Linked DNA regions of Homo sapiens. The protein of the gene in region 1 purifies or fractionates together with the protein of each later gene. This does not show direct contact. Each region holds a gene or a part of one and is shown on either strand. Other genes may lie near its edges.

Region 1 (4,053 bases):
TCTCTCATCCAACCTAAAAATAGGATTGTCCAGGCCTTGAGGGCCTTCTGGAAGGCGCCCCCATCAGTCAAAGCGCTTGCAAAGTGCTTCCACCACAAGAGCAGAGAGGCCGCGCCATGCCTGTGATGCTGCTAGGCACAGCTTGTCTGAAAGAGATGCAACCAGGCTACCTCCCGAAGAACCGACTTGTTGATAATCTTGCCTCAAACAGAGGAGTTTGCAGATGGTTGAGGAAGAGCAGTGGTAGAAATGTTCTCCCCAGGGCCGTCACAACTCCTTCCCAGCCGCAGCCTAGTGTTGCAAGAGAGTTTCTGCTGCTGGGACTACAAAGGAGAGGACAAGGCCCATGGCCGGGAGAGGGGCGGCCTGCACCTTTCAGCCCCGGCGCCCGGGAGAGCCTGCGGGGAGTGCGGCGGGGAGAGTCCTCAAGGATGGAGCGCAAAAAAGGGTCTCAAGTCAGTCCTCGCCACCTTTCCGCAGCCTCGGGAGAGGCTTGGGGGAAGCGCAGGCAAGGGCCAAAACCCCATGGAAGTGGGAATCCTCGGCCTCCAGGGTGAATAAATAATTAAGCGCCCAATACACAATAGCCTCGCTAGATGGAGACGAGGAATCACTGCAGCGGCGCTGGCGGCGGCGGCGGGGGGAGCGCAACCCCGGGCGGGAGGCGGGAGAGGCTCTGGCTCGGCTCACGTCTGTTTTCCTTTTTCGTGGATTATTTATTTCGCCTCCACCCACGGCTTTGCTGCCCCAGCGGGAGCTCCCTGCCGGCGCCTCCCGCCGCTGCCTCTCGCGGGCCAGCGTGAGGGTAGTAGAGAGCTCGGGCACCCCAGTGCCCCGGGCAGCCGCGCGGCGCCACCAGGAAAGGCGGGGAGCCAACGCGGGCCCGGGGAGGGCTCGCGCGGCCGGCTCCAGGCGGCGTGGAGGAGACTTTCCCCGCCCTCTGCCTCCGCCTCGGCGGCCAGCCCTGGCCCTGGGAGCGGGGTGCCGCCCCTCCCGCCCCGCGCGCGGCTAGGCGCAGTCCGGAGCCACCGCGCCCTGCGCCCCGTGCGAGGACGCCGCTCCTGGTCCTCTGCTCAGCGGCCCGGGAGGCCCAACCGGCGCGCAAACTTTTGCTCCAGCGCCGGGCGCTCCTCCCCGGCATGTGAAGCCCCCGGGCGCCCGCGCAGCCGCCAAGGTGAGGACGGAGGCCCCGCCTAGAGGGCGGGGGACTGGGGAGGCGGCTGGCTTTAAATGGGGGCTGTCCGGCTGCTGGGAAACAGAGCTGCCGCGGGGGGAACGCGGACCTCTTTTCCCCGAGCCCAGGGTCGGCTGGGGCCGCCGCCAGGCAAGGTAGCGTGAGGCGTTGGAAGGGTGCGGGCGGAGATGGAGGCGTGGGGGAACCCACGCCCGGGAGCGGGAGATCGGGGCTGGGCGGAGGCGTGCAAAGGGGCAGCGCACGGAGGTGCCTATGTTGCAGTGTGCGCAATGAGGCCGGCTGGGCAGTGTGGGTGCAGGCAGCGTGAGATTTCTTGGGGCCGTGCATGCAGGGTCAGCGAGGGTGCAGGCAGGAGTCGGTGGGTGTGCACGGGGATCAGTGTGTGTGCACGGCTGTTTCTGTGGTTGTGCGCGCAGGTGAGTAGTGCCCGCCGGGTTTGAAGTGTGCTCACAGTGAGAGTGAGTTGTATGGGGGTTAATGGGGCGCAGTAAGTGTGCTTGGCTGTTTCTGGAGGTGTCCATGGGGCCAAGGTATGCACGCAGTATTCTGGAGCTGTGCGCGGAGCTAAAGTGTACACGCGGGGCTCTGGGGATGTGCGTAAGAAGAGTGTGAATTCTGGGACTGACGAAGAGTCAGTGAAGGTGTAAGCTGGAGTGTAAGTGCAGGCTTGGTTTACTAGGGTGCCCCTGGGTGCGGGGCGTGCCCGTCCGACCCGGGCTGGGAGGTATATTGGTGCGCGGCGGCGGAAGTGCCTGCGCGGTGTCCGCCTGACCCTAGCCTTGCTCTCCTGACAGTTCGCCCCAGGAGCGGGCGCCGCTGGCCGAGATGCTCCTCCGGGACTTGGTGCTGCGCCGTGGCTGCTGCTGGTCCTCGCTGCTGCTGCACTGCGCGCTCCACCCGCTCTGGGGCTTCGTGCAGGTGAGACGCGCCGGCTGCGCACTGGCTGGGAGGGCCTCCTGGGTAAGGGGCGAGCTGTCCCTTCCCTCCTGAGACCCTGGCCTCTTGCAGCCACCCCACTGATTGGTTCTCGGAAGAGCTTGGGAAAAGAAAAGCTGCTACGGTCCCCTATACCCTACCCCTGAAAAGATAAGAAACTCCAAAGAGAGGCTTCGATTGTGGCCTAAATCCTGCAGGACCGGGCTGGCCTTGGAATGGAAAGGGGCTCAGAGAATACCTTCCAATGATAACATTCTAGGGCAGAAATTCAGCAAAGAAACAAACTTACAAAGAAAAATGATCCCAAGGATATATATTATTTCTTTCTCACCAGAACCACTGATGAACTTCAAATTAGCTTTCTTAAACTGGTTTTCAACACGGAAGGCAGCCGTGTTTCTTATAGGTATCAGAGTTGAGGATGTAGACAGATAATGCATGGTGGCCCATCTGTCAGGACTGCCCAGGGTTGAATCTCTCACCCTGGGTCCCTTAAATCCCAGGGCAGAGGCCAGGCAGCCACTAACTGGAGTTACCTCTTAGGGTCAGAGAGGGGTTTCAATGGGGTGGTCCCTAGTCCCCCCCAGAATGCGCATCGTCACTGGTACAGTGGAGAGGTGACAAGGTGGACTTCGATGTCAGCTCTGGAATTTGAGCTTCAGCTCTGTCCCTCACCAGCTGGGAGGCTTTAGGCAACCCACTTACCCTCTCTGAGAGTTAGTTTCTTCTTCCTGACTGTACTATTGTAAGTACTTGATGAGATAAATGCATGTAAGGATTACTTAGTGCAGTGCCAGGTCCATGATGAAATTAACCAGTAGTGGTTGCTGCCATTGTTGATAGGAGTAATAGCAATGCCGTTCTTCTGCCTGGCTGACCAGGTACTCTGTTTATCACTGCGTGGTCTGTTTGACATTTTTTCTGCAGGCTCTGGAGGACATTTTCATTGTTTTGGGCATTGAGGATCCACTCTGGGGTATTTGTAGCCTCATGTGCTCCTGATGGCATTTTGGGGTTTGGGGACAATTCACATGGTTGCTCTGTACTAGTAGGGGTGACAGACCAGGAAAAAAAGGGATGCGGGCAAGACCACTTGCCAGTCTACCGAGGTCCATGAGCTGCCCCAAATGATGGGGCCCTGCCGAGAGCTTGCTCAGTCAGTCCTGCCTGGATGATGGCCTGGGTGACTGCCCATCGATAGCCAGGTTCAGACGCTGCTCAGCACCCCCTACTCCCAGGCCCCATCTTCTGCTCTCTTCTCTGGCTTGCCTCCGTCTCACAATTGTTTTCCTTTTGGAATTGACAGCTTTGTCTAATGTGTGAAACAGCAGTTATTAAACTCAGCTGTGCCTCCTCAGGAAACATGATTTTGTCACTTCTAAACACTTTAGTGGCTTGGGACCAGCTTCGCTTGTTCAACTTTTAGCTGAACCTCAGATATTGAGTTCACTTCGTTTTTAGATTCATTTGTTTACACTTTTCTCTCTTCCATAAGACACCTTCACCTGGGGTGGGAAGCAACGTAGTGAGGTTGTCAGTCTCCAGGACTAGAATTCTGCTGTGTAAGCTAGTAGGATCTAAACAGAAGACCCCCAAGCACCATGCACTCCTCCCAGAAGAAATAATTTTGTGAAAGCAGTTCAGTTTTTTAAGTGTCCTTCAGCCAGGCAGTACTTACACAAGCAGGGGTGTGTGTGTGTGTGTATGCAGGGGTGTCTGTGTGTGTGCAGGGGTGTGTGTGTGTGCGGGTGTATTTCAGATGCTCTCACTCAATACAAATCAATTTTCATAAAAATCAATTTAAAAAGGAACCCTCCAGACAAGTAGAATGGGTAAAATCTTGGCTTGAGGCTCTGGAAAAATTAATTTACAAATGATAGGGACAGGGAAATCAAGGGAAAGGGGTTTTGGAATGAATGGAT
Region 2 (4,003 bases), about 23 Mb from region 1:
CCGTTAGAGCCTTGAATCAAAGTATTCTATTTCTTTCTCCTGGTTACCAGGCCTGAGATCTCCCAAAGGAATTTCCAAAGTGCAAGGCTTTGGAGCCCACCTGAAATTGGGCTCAAGTGAGACAGAGGCCCAGAGGATGCTGACTTTGTGCATCAAAGTATGATGACAAGAACATTGCCTTTGGAGAAGAATGGCTCCGGAGCCTTGAGCTTTTTCTCTGCAAAACTGATGATCATATTTCTTTTACATAGATTATAAAGATTTAAAGAGACAATGTATGGAGGATGCCTAACAGCACACACAATTAATTATTAATATAAGTGGTGAGCACTGGAGAAGGCAGCAGAGGGGGAATATCTGCTATTGCTACTTTCCATTCTCTCACCGTTGAAGTTTTCCAGTGTGTGAGGTGAGGATGGGAGTGGTGGAGCTATCCAGATTTCAGTCCCGCCCTGACTGGGCTGGCCTGACCAAGGACACATCTTTGATTTCACCATGGAAAAGTAACCACGTCTGGGGTGGAGGGCAGGCAGTGCTAGCCACTGGTTGGCAGCCCTAGAATGTCCATGGATAATACTGACTAAATATAAGATTCCATTACCACTCCAAAGTCACCGCATTAGCAATCCACAGTGCCTCGTCCTCCACCCATGGCTGCTCTGCCCTTTAACTATTCATGGGGCAGCAGACAGTATGCCAAAGACTTACAGGAACTAAAGGACTCAAGCTGTATCTTATAATGGATTGAAAGAGTCCATTTTTGCTGTACTACAATTTTATCTGCTACTATTACTGCTAGTATTGCTATTAGCACCACCACTCCTCCAACTGCTGCTACTACTACTCTATTAATCCTTTAAGTCTGTAAAGTACTTTACAATTTACAAAGTGCCTCCGTAGCCTGGGTTTTACCCGATCAAAGATGAGACTGGGCATGGCATTCTGGGAAGACAGAGGTAGGCTGGTACTAGAAACCTCAGAGGGAACAGAGAGATCTGCATTTAAGAACCGAGCAGAATTGCCAGTATTTATTTTTACTCCCCCACCACTGCCTCGGCTTCAGACACATTCACCATTCCCTGCCACACCCAGTCACTCTTCCACCCCTACCCTGCTCTAACTGTCCATAGACAGTTTAGGCAACCTCACATGTCAGGAACTAGGAGGAACTGCCCTTTGTTTGGTCGGAGAAGGTTGACCATGCCAGAATCTCACCAAATGGGGCAAGAGAAGAGGAGAGAATGCTTTTTAAGTTGCCTTTGCCAACCTCTCCCACCTTCTCCCAGGAAGGCCCTAGCAAGAGCCAGACTCTTCTTTTTTTAAGAGACTTTAAATATTCCTGCGCCTAAATTAAACAATTTTTAAATCCCTGATTTTGGCTCTTATCCCCAAAGGGAATGTTGGAATGTACACCTTCTTTGCCCAAGAGTAGGGCCCCCTTTTCCTTCACCCCTAGCAGCCAGCTGGCGTGAGGACTGATGCTACACATAGTGAGAAACGGGCAGGGAGGAGAGGGAGAATGCAGCATAGTTCAAGCCCAACCATGAACCAAGCTTCTTTTGAGATAGAGATCTTCACCTGGCAACCGGGAGCCCCAGCAGAGCTCAGAGAGAAGAAAGTGGCATTCTGGAATCCATTTTGCTCAAGATGCTGAAGGCATGGTGTCAAACTCCCCTTTGCTACTGGGGCCAAAAAACTTGGGGAAGATCTTACCTACAGGGATGCGGTTAGTTGGGGAAAAGGCGAGGACCAATCCTGGTGCTCATGCTACCTAAGGAGAGCAGACAGGTGCGTGGCCTCCCTTGGGACCCACCCGCAGGAAAAAGCTGGGCTAGCGGTGGCTGCGGGGGCCCACCCCGGGCGCTGCTTCCGCATTTTGGACCCAGGTCCACTGGTGAGCAGTAGCAGCAGCAGCCATAGCCAGGCCAGCTGGGTCCCCTTCCAGTCATTTCTAGGTGAGATTTACGATGTATGCTAGCGAAGGGACAAGAGATGATTATGGCCTTTGAAAGGCATAATCCTGAAAGTCACACTTTTTCCAAAGCGCCTCCCTCCCGGGTTCTCCCCAGAGCAACACAGTCACAGCAGGAGAATCTGCACCGCGGGAGCGCCGCAGTGGTCCGCGGAGGGACCGGGCCGAAGAACGGGGACCGCGGCGCGGGGGGCGCGGCGCGGCTCACCTGCCAGGCTGTTGTAACAGTCGATCTCGATGGCTTCCACCGTCTTGCTCTGCTCCTCCGAGAGGCGGCCGGGCTTCAGGGCCCCAGCCGGGGAGGCCGGGCGCGAGTCCCGCTCCCGTTCCCCGGGGGGCGGCAGCAGCCCCTTCAGCTCCAGCAACGCCCGGTGGTATTTGCCTATGGCTTCACGGAATTTCTTGTCCTTGTAGCACTGCGCCCCTTGGCTTTTGAACTCGTGCGCTCGTCGGATGAGCTCGGCCGGCTCGGCCGCCGCCCCGACCTGGCCCCTCGCTGGGGCTCCTCCGCCGCCGCCCGGGACGCACAGCGGCGGCGGTGGCCGCTGCCCCTCTCCGGCCGCGGGCGGGCTCGGGTTCCCCTTGGCCCCGGCCGCCGAGCCCTTTCTCTCCATTCGGCCGCCGCCCCGGCGCCTGGTGCGCGCCGCGATCTGCCCGCCGCCGCCGCCGCCGCCGCGCCTTCCCGGGTTTAAAAGCCGCGGGCGCCGGCCCCGCGCCTCGCAGGCTTCGTGGCGGCCGTGACACCCCGCGGCGGTCTGGCGCCCCGCACTCCCATTCTCCCCGCTGCTGCCAGAGGCTGCTCCAGCCGCCGCCGCCGCCGCCTCGGACGCCGGCCCCTCCCCCGCCTCCCGGCTCCGCGCCGCCCGCTCCCGCCCTCCTCCCTCCGCAACCTGCGGGTGGCGGGGGCCGGTGCTCGCGGGCCCGGGACTAGCGCTGCGGGGGGACCGTGGCCCCGAGTGGGGTGGCGGGGATGGTCGCTGACCCGGAAGAAGCTTGGCTTGCCCGAAGGAGGGGAGGATTAATGACAAAGACGGCCCCGCTCTTTCCCATTCAATCCCGCTCTGCGAGGCGCGCCTAGTCTGAAAGGAGGTGGGGGGAGGGGGGTAGGTGTAGGGGAAGGGGAGTGTGTGTGTGTGCGTGTGTGTGTGTGTGTGTGCGTGCGTGTAGGGATGGGGGGCGGCGGCGACGAAATGCGTGCAGAAATAGATTTCTTAACTACAAGAAAAGGTGCGGCAGGGAACAAGGGGCGCAGGCGCAAGCCGTAGCTGCTAGTTCTTTGCAGTAAGGTGTTAGTATTTTTTAAGGGGGCAGGGCCTCCTTTTTGTGGATCCAGGTTGTCGCTGAGGTGTGTCTCGGTGTGTGTGGTCGCCGGGGCGTCCAGAACGCGACGGGCGGTACAGCGTGTGGGGCGCCGTATTCTGGGAGCCTGTGTATGCGTGTGCTGTGTGCGCGCAGCTGTGCAGGATGAATCACAGACATCAGAGATGGAGAACACCTGTTACTGTGGGTCATCGGCTTGGCGTGCGTCCGGTCTAGTTTCCATTTACAGGACAGTTCTGTGCCCTTCCTCAGGAGGTCCCATTCCTTCCTTCTTTTGGTCGGTTCTGAGTGTCAGCTGTCTACTGGGGATCTGCTAAGGCTAAGAGGCAAAGATAGGCAAGTCACTCCCCTGACCTCAAGAAACTCCCAGTCTACAGGCGAAGATACACCACCCACCGGTAGAGTCGCTGGACCAGGTACAGATGGTGCCTGTCATTGGGGAGGAACGAAAAGTGCTGTGCAGCCCTGAGGGGGGGAGGGAGAGGTAGCTTTTTGAGTAGTGGTAGATCAGGAGGCTTTATGGAGGAAATAGCATTTGAGGACCTTGAAGGCTGGGTAGGATTTGGCATGAAGAAGTAGAAGGAAGTGGCATAGCCGGAGTGAGGAAATCCAGCGGAAGTCCTGATGTTTGAAATCTCAGGTGTGTTTAGGGCATAGTGGTTTGATTTTATAGCCTAATGAGAAGTAGTGGGAAATGACGGGGTTGGATTA

What was found. Proteins that work in one complex are often made in the same cells at the same time.
Region 2: the proteins of PRIMA1 (region 1) and TTC9 purify together in Homo sapiens (affinity purification with mass spectrometry; one large-scale study listed by BioGRID and IntAct). This does not show direct contact.

The regions. Positions count from the first base shown.
Region 1 is NC_000014.9:93,785,686-93,789,738, reverse strand, and holds the start of PRIMA1 (proline-rich membrane anchor 1 precursor), read left to right. Parts: upstream 1-1,253; 5' UTR 1,254-1,329; intron 1,330-1,989; 5' UTR 1,990-2,020; coding exon 2,021-2,113; intron 2,114-4,053. UniProt on the Homo sapiens protein: Required to anchor acetylcholinesterase (ACHE) to the basal lamina of the neuromuscular junction and to the membrane of neuronal synapses in brain. Also able to organize ACHE into tetramers.
Region 2 is NC_000014.9:70,640,713-70,644,715, reverse strand, and holds the start of TTC9 (tetratricopeptide repeat protein 9A), read right to left. Parts: upstream 2,801-4,003; 5' UTR 2,587-2,800; coding exon 2,181-2,586; intron 1-2,180.